Linked DNA regions of Homo sapiens. The protein of the gene in region 2 interacts with the protein of the main gene of each other region in a pairwise test. Each region holds a gene or a part of one and is shown on either strand. Other genes may lie near its edges. The genes, in order: VEZT and MYO7A.

Region 1 (8,012 bases), on a different chromosome or scaffold from region 2:
AAAGCAAATATATGCCTCAGTAACACTAATCTGGCCATACACACCCTGGAGGTGGGGAGAACAGTTAGAAATTAATGCCCTAGTGTAGGGAAGAGACAATATGGTTCCACATGAGGCACTGAGAGTGGGAACAGCAAAGAACACAAGGGGGAGAGGAGTGAGACACAAAAAGAGCATTCTAAAATATGAAACACAAAACAATTATTTAGTTAACAATTCAAAAAGTTGTATGTAGCAGCACTACAGAGCAAATTGGATATGATGGTTTGTGACTGGTGTACTTTCTAGTGAAAATACTTAGAAAGGTGAGAGACATTAGCATGTATAGAATATTACACTTTAAAACAGGACAAAAACTTCCTATGCATAATCCACAATTCCTGCTCATGGTACAAAGCTCCTCTTTTTTGTGTTCATGTCTACCTTGTGTAGCACTCTTTCTTCCCTGAGCCATCTTCCCTCACTCAAATGCATTCTAATATGCGCCGTATATTTCTGATTCTATTGCCAAAACTTACTTCTTCGGAGGCTCTGGCTTTGCCTACAACCTGTCCACTGAAATCTTATTTTCCTTTGAGGACAATCCAACCTTTGCCACCCACTCAAGTGGAGATGGCCTTATCGCCCAGTTCCCTGTAGAAGGCAGGGCTAAGAGCCTCGTTAGCATTTACCTGCTTTCTTAGAACAGCAGATATAGACCACTGGAATACCCTGAGTTCATAGTGTCTTCATTTTTCCTATGCCATAATCTTTATATCAGCCTTATATCAAGCCTTATATCAAGCCCAACTCAGGCCTTGAACTGATGGGTAAAAACTTAGCTTCTAAAAATATCTTTCTGACTTTAAGTTCCTATCCTTGTATCTCTTATCCTCCCTAATTCCAGTGATTTTGATTTGCTGATTTAGCCTTTTGATTTTGCTGATGTATCAAGTCCTTTTGACCCATTCTTATTTACATAATCAAATACTGCCTTCCCCATTCCACTTCTTGCCTTGTATCCCAGGGTCAAGTACATCAACTACAATCTTGTCAGCTCTTTAAATTCCTAGGACCTTCCTGATTACCAACACAATTTGAACCCAACCATTCATTTGATCCAGTCCTACACGATGAGTATTTAACTGTTAGAGAAAAATTTCACTGGAAATGACTGTATTCAATTAAATGCCTTGATTCAATTTTTAAACTTGAAAACTTCCATGTACAAATATGTGAAAATAGTATTTTCAGCTGATAAAGGTATACCAAAGTGGGACATAAAAATTTAGGAATTAAGGTAGTATACCAACAATTTCATGCAAGGTAGGAAATGAACAAATATAAACTCTAGACTCTACATTTTGCTCTTCAACTGGGACCACAAAGCTTGTCCTGTGATACAAAAAAATTTTCAGATCTGCTGTAATTTATTTAGAAAAATAGCAATATGTTACTCTTCCACTATATATAACATATATACTGTTCCAGTACTGGTAGATATTTCTATTGGACTGCAGGTTCCAGTTTAAGAGCACTACCTTAAGACAGTTAAAAGAAACTCATTCTTTATAACCATCTCCATTTCAGCTCTCAAAGAGAATGAACAACACCTGCTTTTAGCCTACTTTTCCAAGTTTTCTGTTGAACTAAGGAAAAGTAAAAACTATAAATAATAACTCCCTCAAGTTATAGTACTTATAAATTATTTTTTTTTTTTGCTATATTTATAGCTATAAATCACCCTTCATGCTCATGCCTCAGTTTTGTTTCTTTTTTCTAGGTAGGACACAAGCCAACAACCACAATGGTACACGAATGAAGCTTGCTAATTACCGAGACCTTTCTTGGTATAATTTCTAAACTTACTCATTCAGTAATGCTTTCAGATGGAGCTGCAAGCTACGCACTGCTGTGTGAACATTATTCAGTTCTCTTGACTTCTGTTGAGTTTTGGATAAACACTGCGGTACTGACTGGTGCTGAGTTTCAAAGTACCGATAGAACTCATAGCTGCGCTTAAGCTCTTCCAAACAGGCAGAATGAGCATGAGGTAGACCTTGAGTCACATCAGATAAGATACGATGAGGCAGAAGTGCTGGAGTAAGTAAGGGCCCAGGAGGTGAATTGGCTGTAGAAAGTAATAGGGCTAACCGTCTGAAGAACTCTGAACTCTGTGCCACCCAGAGTTGGAACAAAACCTTAAAGAAAAAAGAAAAAAGAACTAGATCAATAAAAATATTGGTCAGTGTTCAAAACAAACTATAAATTTGTTTATCTTAACTTCTGGTTTAAATTTTGCACTTTATCCTAAATAATAAATATAGCCGAACTTAAACTACCTTAAGATTAGCCAAGAATATGATTTCAAATTATGTGTGTGGGAACCTCTGATTCCAATACAGCAGGTAACATCAATATATAATTTACTACAGTTCTGCCCTAGATGGGAAGTGTTGATGGAATGAGATAATTTAGTAAAAGTGAATCTTCACTCATTATTTAAAAAAAATTTTCACATAGGAGAAAAGAAGATAGTAGGACTAGTGGATATATATACATATATATATATATTTTTTTCTCTCCAAAGAAATGAGTCACATGGATCAAAAGCTTGGGTTTCAAAATAAGACTATTACCTTGCCCTAGGAATTAGCTAAGAAATTAACATAAAAATCAGTCCAGGGCTAGGCGCAGTGGCTCACTTTGGGAGGTGAAGGCGGATGGATCACTTGAGGTCAGGAGTTTGAGACCAGCCTGGCCAACATGGTGAAACCTCGTCTCTACTAAAAATACAAAATTTAGCCAGACATGGTGGTATGTGCTTGTAGTCTCAGCTACTTCGGAGGCCGAGGCAGGAAAATCATTTGAACTTGGGAGGCAGACGTTACAGTGAGCTGAGATGGCGCCACTGCACTCCAGCCTGGGTGACACAGCAAGACTCCATCCAAAAAAAAAAAAAATCAATACTCCAGGAATGTCTGACATGAGAAATTGCAAAACCCATTATTTTAATTAATTAATTAATTAATTTTTGTGATAGAGTCTTGCTCTGTTGCCCAGGCTAGAGTGCAATGGCACTATCATAGCTTACTGCAACCTCAAACTCCTGGGCTCAAGTGATCCTCCTACTTCAGCCTCCTGAGTAGCGGGAAACACAGGCATGTACCACCATACTCAGCTAATATTTAAGTTTTAGAGATGGGGTCTCAGTATGTTGCCAGGATAAATCCCATTCTTCTTCTTTTTTTTAAAATGCAGTCTGAATATGTTCATAGGCCCGTTCCTGAGATACATCCTGAATCCTGGCAGCAAAATATTTCTCCAGATATAGTCCTATTCAAGATGAGGACAATATCTCCGAAACAAATGCATGAGGAAACAATGTAGTATGAAACAAGAGGTAGCAGGGAATAAAAAGAGGATGAAACCACTTTGGGTAATTTAGATTCCAATTATTCACAACCATGAAAATAGACAGTATTTAGATGGTTTTAGTAAATGAATTTTAAAATTATGCCAATAATGAATTAAGATTATTTCATGTATATCTATTTTACCATTAACTTATTTTTTTTTTAAAGTGACCAAGGCCTAATTTCCTAGTTGCTACAGATGTGATATCTAGGGATTCTTGACTTGCAAGTTTACTTGCAAGCCTTCTTATTCAACTGTTAAATTTTATGATTACAATGATTTTTATTCTTTTGTTCGTTCATTCAGAAATGATTTCTTGAGCACCCATGATGTGCCAGGCACTGTTCTAGGTGCAGATAAACAGCAGTGAGCAAAAATGAAGAGTCCCCACTCTGATGGAGCTTATATTCAAGTAGAGGGGCACAGATAATAATTTACAAGTAAAAGATACTATTTCCCTTTTGCAGTAATGATTGTCGAGGAAGAAAAAGAAAGATAGTGTTTCTTGGTTGATGGGAAAAACACAGCAAAGAAGAGGAATAGTGTGTGTGTGTGTGTGTGTGTGTGTGTGTACACATATGAAAGGGGGGGAATAGTGTGTGTGTGTGTGTGTGTGTATGTGTGTGTACACATATGAAAGGGGGGGAGAGAGACAGAAAGCGCGAAGGAGAGAGGAGAAGGGGCTGGCTGGGGAGGTCTCTAAAAGTGTCACCTGAAGGAAGTGAGCCATGAGATAATCATCAAGGAAGAGAGTTCTAGGGAGCAGGAAGTCAAATGCAAAGTACTGTTGTGGGAGCACACAGGGTAGATCTATGGAACAGCAAGAAGCTCAGTACGGCTGGGGCCAGGTAAGCAATGGGGAGCCACTGAAGGGTTCTGAGCAGAAGCATGACATAATCTGATTTATGCGTTAACAGGCCCATACTGTCTGCTGAGTTGAGAGATTATAGGAAAATGAGAGTAGAAGTGGAGAAACCAGTAAGGAAGTTACTGCAATATTCCAGGTAAGCATTAATGAGACCACGGTGGTTAGTGGTGGAAGGTGAGCAGCAGATGGACTCTGGATACATTGTGAAAGCAGAACTAACACAATCTCTTGACTGATTGGTATTGAGAGAAAAAGAGTTAACAAGGATGATTCCAGCATGTTGGGTCAAGATAACTGCAAGAATCAAGTTGGTACAGTTTACTGCGGCTTTTGAAAAGACTAAAGGCCAGGCGCAGTGGCTCCCACCTGTAATCCCAGCACTTTGGGAGGCTCACTTGAGGCCAGTAGTTGGGAGACCAGCCTGGGAAACACAGTGAGACCCCTGCCTCTACAAAATATTTTCTTAAAAATTAGTCAGGCATGGTGGCACATAACTGTTGTTCCAGCTACTTGGGAGGCTAGGGTGGGAGGATCGCTTGAGCCCAGGAGTTCAGGGTTACAGTGAGCCACGATTGCACCACTGCACACCAGCTGTGTGACTGAGCAAGACCTTGTCTCTAAAGACTAATTTGTCATCCAATCACTGTCACATTACCCACTTAAACCAGAACTCAGAAATATGTATTTCTTTTTTCCTGTTTGTTCTTTGGATAAGGAAAGCTCCTCTGGATAAGGAGATAACCATAGCTGATAGGTAAACAGAAAATTTTGATTTAAAGCATTTCACAATGTGTGCATTTATTTTTTCTAGAGCAGGAAACAGATGACTTCATAAATTTAAAAAACTAGTTAAAAACTTAAAGGAAAAGAGAGGGATAAGGACTGTGTTCTAGGGACTGATTGAGTATCCCTAATCCAAAACTTTGAAATGAAATCCCAAATGCTCCAAAATTTGAAACTTTTTGAGCACCAACATGGCAGTCAAAGGAAATGCTCACTGGAACATTTCAAATTTCAAATTTTTGGATTAGGGATGCTCAACCTCAATGTGTAATGCAAATATTCCAAAATCTGAAAAAATCCAAAATCCAAAACACTTCTAGTCTCAAGCATTTTGGATAAGAAATTAATTAATCAATTAATTTATTTATTTATGTTGAGACGGAGTTTCGCTCTTGTTGCCCAGGCTGGAGTGCAATGGCACGATCTTGGCTCACCACAACTTCCGCCTCCTGGGTTCAAGCGATTCTCCTGCCTCAGCCTCCCGAGTAGCTGGGATTACAGGCATGCACCACCACACCTGGCTAATTTTTTGTATTTTTAGTAGAGACGGGGTATCTCCATGTTGGTCAGGCTGGTTGCAAACTCCCAACCTCAGTTGATCCGCCCGCCTTGGCCTCCCAGAGTGCTGGGATTACAGGCGTGAGCCACGGTGCCAGGCCTGGATAAGACTCACGCCTGGATAAGAAATATTCAACCTGTATTTTATTTATGTCTCCTCAGGCTACAATTTGGAGGTTGCTTTTCTTTCTAAAGGTGCAATACTTACTATCACTAAACTTTCCTGAGGGAAGATACGGGAACAATAAAAAATAAATCCAAAATGTATTTTCTTTAGAGGGGGCAACACACTTTTAAAAATTTAACTTACAAAATCTATTTTTAAATTTCTTATCTGAATAACGATACAGTGGTAACTACAGAAGGGGGTAATACACAGTCTTTGAACATTACAGGGGTTTTCAACAGTTTGCAAAGTCTATAGAGCTCCTCAAGATAAGGCTCCTTTCAGAGCCTGATAAATGTGGTAACTGTAACACAATCATTGAGTTTGGTTACAGGTTAGTTATATGTAAAAATAAAAGAAATATAAAAATACTATTATAGTTTGATTTGTAAAACACTGTGAGTGAGCAAAAGGAATCTAGCTATAATCACCATTGTTGGAAGGTAGGATGGGGATACAGCAACAGAGAACAAGTCTCACATTTCAGAGCAGGCCATATCAGATAGAATTTTAAAAATCAGCTAACATTCATTAATTGCTTACTCTACACCAGGCACTGAACTGACAAACATCTAATCCTTTGGAGGCAAGCATTGCAATTATCCCATTTTAATAAACACAGAAACAATGATTTGCTCAGGACCACACAGTAGTCAAATAACGGAGCTAGAGTGAAACCTGGAAAATCTGACTCCACAGGGTCCACAACTTCTCTTTGCTGCCTATACTTAAGCTAGAGTACAATTCAGGATTTAATAAGCTTTTAAAAACAGTACATCAACAGCATAAAGAAATAAATCTCCAAGGCATCTTGATGAGTTAACAAAAAGTAATTTAAAAGGAAATGAAATACTATAATTCTTTCTCCAAGTCCTTCTTAAAGAATAACAGCTATTACCATTTGGGGGTACCCATTATATGTCAAGCCCTGTTCTAGGTATTTAATATGTCTTCTCATTTAATCTAATACCTTATAAGGCAGGGATGGTAACTCCTTTTCACAGGTGACATAAGTTCAAAGAATAACTTATTCAAAGGCAAATGGCTAGTCAGTCAGGGCTAAAATATAAACACAGGTCTGCTCCATTTTCCACATTAAGAATCTCTTAAATTGTACTTTGAAAAAAATCTTTATTTTCCTTAAAGAATAAAGCAAGGTTAGGATATTAAATTCGAAAGGGTGTGAAAGTATCTATAGTCCCACCACCCCAAAGAGTAGCTATATATATCTTGGTATTTTCTCCTCATTTTTTTTTTTAAACAGGGTTGTGGACATATTGCATATACACTTATGTATCCTGATTGTTTCACTGGCAACAGATGTTTCTCCAAGTTTTTACAGAATTTTCACGGGCAAGCTGTAGCTGCTACACAATGGTTCACCATGTGGCTCTGGCATGACTCACACAGCCATTCCTCTATTTTTGAACTTTCAGGCAGTGTTCCATTGTGCACTATTATAAACACAAAGTGAATAAGCAGCTTGGTATATAAAGTTTAACTATGTTTTAAATAATTTCCTGCAGTTTGTAGAAGGGGAATTACAAATTCAAAGGATAAATCATTAAAAAGGTTCTTTACATGTCAAGTTGCATTCTGAAACAAATAACTTTAGATAACTGAGGAAAGTACTGCAGCAGCCTAAGTATGAAATGATGGTGGCTGGGACTAGCATGGTGGCTGGGACTAGGATGGTGCGGGGGCGGGGGTGGATATAGAAAAAAGTGGATGGGTTTAAAATACATTTTCAAGGTAGAAGTGACATAAGAATCTGCTAACAGACTGGATGTGAGTGGGCAAAAAGAGGGACAAGAAAGATGGTGTCCAGGTTTTTTGTGGTGCCATTTATTGAGATGGGTTAGAAGGGGAGTAGGAATAAGCCAAAGCAAATTTTACGTAATAGGAAAGAAAGAAAACAAACAAGATTATTAGAACATTTATGTTGATTTAGAAAATGTAAAAGATATGGAAGTCAATACAGTCTCAAAACAAAATGGATCTTGATAAATGCTAACAACAATACTTGCACTAATTTTCACGGTATCAAGGGAAGTTTTAAAAACTAAAAACAAAGAAACATCTAAAGAGAGCTTACTAAATACTTAGTAGGAACTTAAGACATTTGGATCAATGTCTTAAAAATACTACTGGAGGCTGGGCATGGTGGCTCATGCCTGTTATCCCAACACTTTGGGAGGCTGATGTGGGCAAATAGTTTGAGCTCAGGAGTTTTAGACCAGC
Region 2 (8,012 bases):
CCTCTAAGTCACACCTTCCCTGTCTGAAACCCCCACCCGCAGCCCTACTCCAGTCATGGCCAAACCTGGTTGTCCCATGCTGGTCACAAAGTAACATTTTACTGGCACCCACTGGACATGAAGATTTAACCCAAGGCAGCATTGTTCTTGGGGTTCTTGGACATGTCTTGATGAGCCAAGGTGTTTCTGGCAGGTGCAAGGGCCGCTGTGGCTCCACTGGCCCTAGTTACAGCCCAGAAGCTGATTCCTCCTCTAGACCCCCAGCTGCTCATGCACACTTGGTCCTCACCTCCCAGCCTGATGTCCAGCACTTCCTCCCAACCCACCCCAATCTCAGCTCTTCCCTTTAAGCCACTTAAGGCACATCTTGAGCTCAAGCTCCCCAACCCCCAAACCCAGACCAGCTTGGCCCCAGCAGGTTAAGACCAAAGAAGTCGTTATATAGGCTGCTCCCCTGCAAGGCCCTGTCCTGACCCCACATGCCCTTCCCTTCCACTTCCCCTCCCTGAGCAAAGACACTGTCGGGCCAGAGAATGAAACATGCTTTATGCCCTGAGGTGATCAGGGTAGACTTGAGCAGGGGCCCAGCATTCACACTGCAATATAGAAAAGTGGTCTGTCTCCCTCATCCCACCTGCAGATCCAGTCCCTTCGGTTTCAGAGTATTCAATGCACATTTGGTTGTTCAAAGTATGGAGAGCTAGATTGTCCTCTTGATTCCTCTATCCCAGTGGTACACAGAAAGTCAAAGGAAGTTGCATGGTGGGGCTGGTCTGAAACAGGAGACACATCTAAGGATCACAGGCTCTCACAACCGGGAAGGCCACAGCAAACTAGGATTAGACCAACCCAGGTGCCAGAGGGGTGGATGGAGGGAAGTTCTGCATCCCAGAGAGATGCCTCACTGGAAGAACATCAGAGGCCCAGTTGGTATAGTCAGTGGTGGCTGGCCAGCCCAGCCTCGCTGCCGGGATGGCATAAGTCTTCCCCAGCTGCAGGGGTAGCTGATGGGCCTGAACCCACTGCTGCCTCGAGAGCAGGCATGGAACCAGCACCTCCCCGTGACTGTTCACTTGCCGCTCCTGGAGCCCCGCTGTTTGCTCATGGCTGTGAGCATCTGGCTAATGTAGGAAGTCAGGAGGTCATCCATCTTGTAGCCCTGGAAGCAGGGGTGAGAAGATAAGCGAGCACACGGTGGGACAGGGCCAGCCACTCAGACCATAGCACAGCTCCCAGGAATCTGCAATGGGCAGAACCCAGGACAAAGGCAAATCCCTCCTACTCAGGGCTTATCTCCCATCTGCACAATTGAAGGGTTGAATTCATCCAGCCAGATGGCTAAGGTTCTACACTGTTATGACCCCACATTAAGCCCCTAGCTTGTGGGTCCCTCAAGTCACGGATCCCTCCCTCCAAGAGTGACCCTACTGGCTCTCAGTTGAGCTATGCCTTGGAAGTTTGAGCTTGGTCAAGGAGGTCTCATTGTTAATGGTTCCACTGTTGAACTCGGGGGGCTAAAGGGCTGTCACAGTGGGCCCGATCCCCAGATACTGAAGGCACTCAGACAACAGTTGTTGAACGAGGGATCTGTTCCTCAGCCCCAGATTAAGTCCCTTCCCCAGACCTAAGCTGAGCCTCAAACTGACCTGACCTTGGCCCCAGCATGACCCTTGCCCACGACCCCAGGCCCAGCCGCACACTACTGTGTTTGTTCCAGGCCCTGGGAGGCTGGCTACGCTGCAGGCAAGGCAGGGAGCCCACTAGGCCCAGCAGGATGCGCCCTCACCAGTGACGTCTCGCAGAGCAGTTTGCTCCCGCGCACCAAGTTCCCAATGGTGATGTGGAAGTAGGTGTTGCCGCTGCTCCAGTTGGAGATCTTGGTGAAGGGATGAGTGGTGAGGATATCCTGGGGGAGCAGAAAGGGCATAGAGAGGCACGGCCTGGGCCCTGTGGCCTCACTTGCCCACACATGCCCTCACAGAAGGCCTCAGGCCCTCAGAGGAGCCCATGGCCGGAGGGAAAAGCCAGCTCTGCCATCCAGCTGCGGTGGGAAGCAGGTGCCTCCCCCTCCACACCTTGGTTTGGACACCCAGGAAGTCTAGGAGGCTGTTGGGTACTTGGGGCCAGAACTCGGAAATTGGGAGACCTGAGGGAACTGACACCGTGGCCTGAATGAGATGGTCCAGGGAGAGTTTGAGGAGGGAGCCAAGAAGAAGACAGGGCAGAACCTTGGGAAACACGGTGTACAGGAGCAGGCACCAAAGGGTCCGGGAAGGAATGACCAAGACACAGAGGACAGCCAGGAATGCGTGATGCATGAAGCCAATGGAAAGATGGTGGTCACGAGCCCTCTTCACCACCTGTCCAGTCGGACCCTCTGGGTGTGCAGCTGGGCTGCTCTGGCCCAGAAACACAGATGCACGGTCACCCCTGCACAGCCAGCCCCATGACCTGCATGGGCAGAGCATCCAGTGATACTGAAAGGCCAAGTACTAAAGGGAGTTCACATTCCATAGGAAGGAGTTTGTTAGTAACTTCAGGAGAGCAATTTTGGTGGAGCAAGCGTTGGGTAAAGTCCTAGCAAACGCTGACAGCTTTTGAAGCCACGTGATGGGTGGATGAGTCTAGAGATAGATGGTGGCTAGGAGGGCTTGTGGGGTTCGTTCTGGGACCGTGTCTGTGGTTCAGGCAGAGAAGCCCGCCCCCACTTGCTGCCTTATCCCTGCTCACCTTCGTTTTGGGATCGATGAGGCTGACCCCATACTTGTTGATGGCAATTAGGAGGATCTCAGGGAAGTTTGGCTCCGTAGTTTGCTAGAAAAAAAGATGAGAAGGCATCAGATGGGGGCCCAGAGCAAGAAAAGCATTTGGGGACAGGAATGAAGCCTGGCCCCAGCTGGGATAAAGTCAGCCTCTCCTGTTGCCTATGTGGTACTGACGGCCCTGCCATGACCTATGGCTTCCACCTCCGCTGGGCCCTCAGTGCTGCCCCACATCCCTTCCTGGGTCCCCCAGGCCATCCTCTGCTTTGTCCTCCCTCTCAGCCCAAGGGCCTCCCATCTTTAAAAAGCCTCCTGGACCCTGCACCTGCCTCCAGCTACCTACCTGTTCTCCTCGCACAGCCAAGCTCCTCAAAAGGCCTCCCATCCTAGCTGTGTGATAAGACCATACGTATCCTCTCACACCAGCCTCCTCACCATACTCCTGCCTCTGTTGTGCCCCTCAGACCCCTCCTCCACCCGCAGCCTGAGAGGCTTTCTGGCCACGTCACCTGTGTTCAAAACCCTCCAAGGCAGGCCACCCCTGCAGGAAACCCAGCCTCTCACCTGCTTGCCAAGCTGCTGCTCTCCACAGCCCACTCTCGCCTCCTGCCCTCACTACTTGGATTTCCTTCCCAGACCTGAGTTCTCACACCTCCAGGCCTTTGTCTATGTGGGACCCCTGCCAGGAGCACTCTTTCCAGGGTCTGCCTGGAAAGCTCAGATATCACCTCCTCTAAGAGGCCTTCTCACACCCGGCAGAGCCTCCCGAGCTCTGCCACCTGGGCGAGGGCTCCCCAGTGTCAGAACACAGGCCATCCTCCATTACCCCAGCCTGTTTACATGTCTGCCTCCACTGCCAGGCTGAGCTTCTTCTGGTCCCTCTGTCCCCAGGACTTACCCCAGCTAAGACGCTAAGCTGGGACAAGGCTGAGGGTGCTGCCCTCCTTCCCTCACCAGGGCAGGTGTCCAAGGCCATGGCTCTTTCCCACAGTCCTAGGGAGGAGTCTCTGTGCTTTATCAATGCCCTGTTCCCCTCCTCCTCTGCTCTGAGAAGCCCATGGTGTACCTTCACCTCGAAGAAGGCTGAGCCAAAGGTGGGCCACTTGAAGATGAGCTTCAGGAAGGCCAGCTTGGCCTCCTCCTTGGACTTCCCTGCGTGCTTGTTGAAGTAGGCGACGATGGACTATGGGGACAGGGCGGTCAGGGCTGGGCTCAGTCCTGGGGACAGGCCTGCTCAGGGCAGGCCAGCTCAGAGCTCAGAGTCCTCCCCACACCACCCCTGCCCACTCCAGCCCCGTCTGCACCCTCAGGGCCAGGACTAGGACAGCAGACCTGGGGACTGTGAAGGGCTCTCCCCATATTTCAGCTAATGGACTCCCGACCTCCCTTCTCACCCCCAGGCAGGCAGACCAAAGGGTATCAAGGACAAACAGGTCACCATGGTAACCAGGACAGGATAAATGACTGCCAAGTGGCCACTGAGTCCTTGGCATGGAGGACTGAAGGATAAGGCAGGTGGAGGAACAAGGGTGGGCGGCCTCATCAAGTACAAGAACCACAAGATGCACCTCCCTGGGCTGCTGGCCAGTGTCTGCCCCCTTGGCCCCTGGGGTGCCCCGAGGCCCATTCAGGGCCCCACCATTCCCGATGCCCACCCCATGCTCACCCGCTTCCAGTCATCAGGTGAGACCTGCCGGATAAGGTCCTGGGGCACCAGCTCCCGCAGCAGCTTGGGGATGCTGGGGAAGTAGGACTTGTCCTCCTCGAACTTGACCCTGTAGATCAGCGCCCCCAGCTGCAGCACCTCCTCCCGCGTGCACTTGTGGTAGCCTCGGAGATACTTGGGCAACTCCTGTCAGAGACAGAGCAGGTCACAGGCGTGCAGGGACCTGGCAGAAGTGGGCTCCTTTCCCACCACACCAAGACCCCCAACGCCGGGGTCTACCACCTTACCCCGCACATGGGCCCACCCACCTCTCCAGCCTCAGCTGACACTGCTCCCCCAGGGGATACGGCACAGGACAGGGACAGAGCAAGTCTGCCTGCACAGACTCAGCAGTTGGCAGTTGGAGTGCATGGCCATGTCTGTTACCTCATGTCCCCCCATAACAGTCCAGTGAGATGAGCAGCCCCATTTCAAGATGAAGAAACTCAGAGTGACCAGCTGGCAACCCTGAGACTGTTCCATACCCCTCACCTCCTGGGCCCATCCTCCTCTGGAAGAGCCTCTCAGTCTGGCCTCCTTGCATTGGGTTCTCTTGAGACCAGCTGCTTTCATTAGCAGTAGCAGAGGCCCTCCCACCCCCTTGAACTTCCAGACCCAAAACCAGAGGAACTTAGGCTGGGGAATGGGCCCAGAGCAGAGATGAAGCCTCTGAAGGGCTGGCGCTGCCCACAGACTCCTAGAGCCTTATGGTCATCTTATACACAATTTGAAAGGTAGAGAAACTGAGGCTGGCCTGAGGATACATTGTCAGTCAGAGATCTGAGTCAATCATTATCCATCCTACCCACCCATCCATGTGGTTATGGGTCTATCTACCTACACATCTACCTCCATCCATCTCCCTATCTGTCCATCCATCTACCCACCCATCCACCCACTCACCTACCTAACTCACCAATTCACTTACCAATATCCACCCATCAATTCACTCAGCATTCATCCTCCCATCTCTATGTTCATTGAGCCACCAGTTTACCTACTCACCCATCTGTCAATCCAACAAGCATGCATTGAACATCTATGAGCCAGGCCCTTTAAGCAACAATGCCTACCCTCCCTACTTCCATGGAACTTGTAGTCTCAGGGCAAGGACAGACATTAAAAATCATACCAAACAGATATATAATGACAACCTTTGAAGGAATTGTCCACAGTGCTGTAAGAGAATATAACAAGGTGACCTAATCTAGGCTTGAGGACAGGGCAGACTTCCTTTAAGATAAAATGGCTGACTGACATCTAAAAGCTCAGTAGGTGAGGGAAGGAACTGAGGGAAGAGCATCCCAACATTACAAAGGCCCTGTGGCACACTTGAGAAGCGGAAACAATCCAGCTGAGCTGAAGGAGAGCCAGGTACAAGGCAAGGCAGCAGGAGCAGTTAGTGGCACCACCAGGCAGGGCCACGGCCAGGACGGGGGTTATGCCCTACGAGCAAGGGGAATCCACTGGGGGAATCTGGAAAGCAGGATGACCACCCTGTGGAGAAAGGATTGAAAGGACCAAAATGGATGAGGAGAACAGGGAGAAGGTCACTGCCTCCATTCTGGATCAGAGATGATGGTAGACTGACCCAGGTTGGGAAGGTGGTGATGGAGAGACATGGGGGACTTTAGAGATATCCAGGAGGTACAGTCATCAGGTAAGTGATTTGGGACGTGGGACAGGAGGAGCAGATGTCAAGGCTGACTCTGGGGGAACTGGTAGTCCAGGGGCCATGCACTCAGTGGGCAGCATGGGGTGGGTGGGGAGGGGCATGAGGAAAGGTAGATCCCAGGTTTGGATGAGGGCAGTCCTTCTCACTCCCAGGCCAGTGTCCTCTCTGCCACAGCAGCCACCGTCCCTGCCTCCTCTGCCCTTCCCAGCATCATGGTTTTTCTCCCACAGAATGGTAAGCAGGCTGAGCCCAGAAAAGAGCACCAACCTGCAGTCATGAAGACCTGGAATCAAACCCCAGTTCCATCAGCTGTGTGATCCTAATCACAGCACGCGGCCTGAGTCTCTTTGTCCCTCTGTCAAATGGGGACAACATGCCTGCTTCTTGGGGTTAGTTGGGAGGACAGAATGAGAGAAGAGTGCCAGACACATAATAGAGGCTCAACATGCAAGCTTCCCTCCCGGCTTCCTGCAGGTGCCTATGCTAGAAAATGTTTGCACAGAGGCCTTGGAATTACCCAGTTACAACAGCAGAATCTCGAAGTCAGAGGATAGCCCCGCACTGAAGGAGGGGCCTGAACAGGTAGGGATCGGAAGCTCAGAGGAGGAACTGTCAAGCCCCTAAGGGCTGAAGAATCAGAAGATACAAGGATCAGGGGTTGGGCCATCCCTTGGGGCTCCAGTGGTCTTGGCAGGAATCCCTTTGAGGCCAGGCTGGTACGGGCCCCACACCTGGCAAGGTCAGTGGGTCTCTGCTTTCAGGGCCAAAGTACAGCAACGCTAGCTGTGCACGAAGGCAACTAGAGTGCAGAGGTGCCCACCTGGTAATAGTGGAAGATGGAATCGGCCATGGGATCCTTCCCTGGCACCGTGGTGGTCCACAGCTTCTTCATGAAGAACACCTGGTAGGTGAGTGAGGGCACAATTCCTGCAGCACAGGGCAGTCGGTCACCCAGAGGGTCCCTGCACAGAGGAGTGCTCACGTCCCGAGCCCAGACCCAGAGGAGGCCCTCACTCAGGCCCGCCTAGGTGGGCCTCACGGCACAGCCCCGAGCCCACACTTCCCTGCTCTGGGCCTCAGATGATCCCAGGACCCGGCCTCATTACCGTCCTTGATGGGCCGAGCTTTCTTTATCCAGTCTGTCAAGTGTCGAACAAAGTCAAAGAAGAAGTCATTCTCAGGAACGCTGAGGACCTGGGGTCAGGGCCATCGAAGCACACTCAGTTTAAGCAACACTGCATTTTCTGACCTTCCCACCTAAGGCCTGTCTGGCAGCTGCTCCTTCTCAGGGAAGACTCCACTCCCAGCCGGAAGGGGTTTCTGTGTGTCAGCCCCACCCTGCCCCATGTGCCTGCTGAGTGTCCCCGGAAGAGCCCACTTCTTGCCGGGAGCGATGGTCATTCCATTCAGTGCCTGGGACACTGAACGCTGCCTTAGACTCAAGGGAAACTGGCCAAGAATGCGGCCCAGCCCCTGGCTTGGACATTCTCTGGCATCCATGTCCAGCTCCTCCTGCAGCTCTGGGCTCCCCTGGGTCTAGGACCTCATTGGGGTCACCTCTGGGTCCCAGCGTCTGGCACAGAGACAGGCATGAAGTGAGGAAACAGACACAGAGGCACACAGAGCCATCAGCAGGCAACAGGATGGGGCACCCAACTCGGTCAGGGAGGCCTTCCCGTGGAGGGGTCTTTAGCTGGGCCTGGAAGACTTCCAGGGACAGAGGTGCTGGGGGAGCGTGATGTGAAATGGTGGCAGGGGCGTGGGCTTTAGAGCCAGACCCACCTGGAGCTCAGTCCCTGCTGTGTGACCTTGGACAAGTTACCTAACCTCTCTGAGCCCTAGTTATGTGATCTATCAAGTGGGGATGATC

What was found.
Region 1: the proteins of MYO7A (region 2) and VEZT interact in a two-hybrid assay, tested with the Homo sapiens proteins (one study listed by BioGRID).

Annotation. Positions count from the first base shown.
Region 1 is NC_000012.12:95,276,481-95,284,492, reverse strand, and holds part of VEZT (vezatin), read right to left. Parts: intron 2,181-8,012; coding exon 1,849-2,180; intron 1-1,848. UniProt on the Homo sapiens protein: Plays a pivotal role in the establishment of adherens junctions and their maintenance in adult life.
Region 2 is NC_000011.10:77,207,754-77,215,765, reverse strand, and holds the end of MYO7A (unconventional myosin-VIIa), read right to left. Parts: intron 7,337-8,012; coding exon 7,249-7,336; intron 7,070-7,248; coding exon 6,963-7,069; intron 4,615-6,962; coding exon 4,429-4,614; intron 3,946-4,428; coding exon 3,829-3,945; coding exon of another isoform or gene 3,496-3,828; exon of another isoform or gene 3,180-3,495; intron 3,153-3,179; coding exon of another isoform or gene 3,132-3,152; exon of another isoform or gene 3,106-3,131; intron 2,815-3,105; coding exon 2,731-2,814; exon of another isoform or gene 2,730-2,730; intron 1,907-2,729; coding exon 1,787-1,906; intron 1,160-1,786; coding exon 1,070-1,159; 3' UTR 525-1,069; downstream 1-524. UniProt on the Homo sapiens protein: Myosins are actin-based motor molecules with ATPase activity. Unconventional myosins serve in intracellular movements. Their highly divergent tails bind to membranous compartments, which are then moved relative to actin filaments.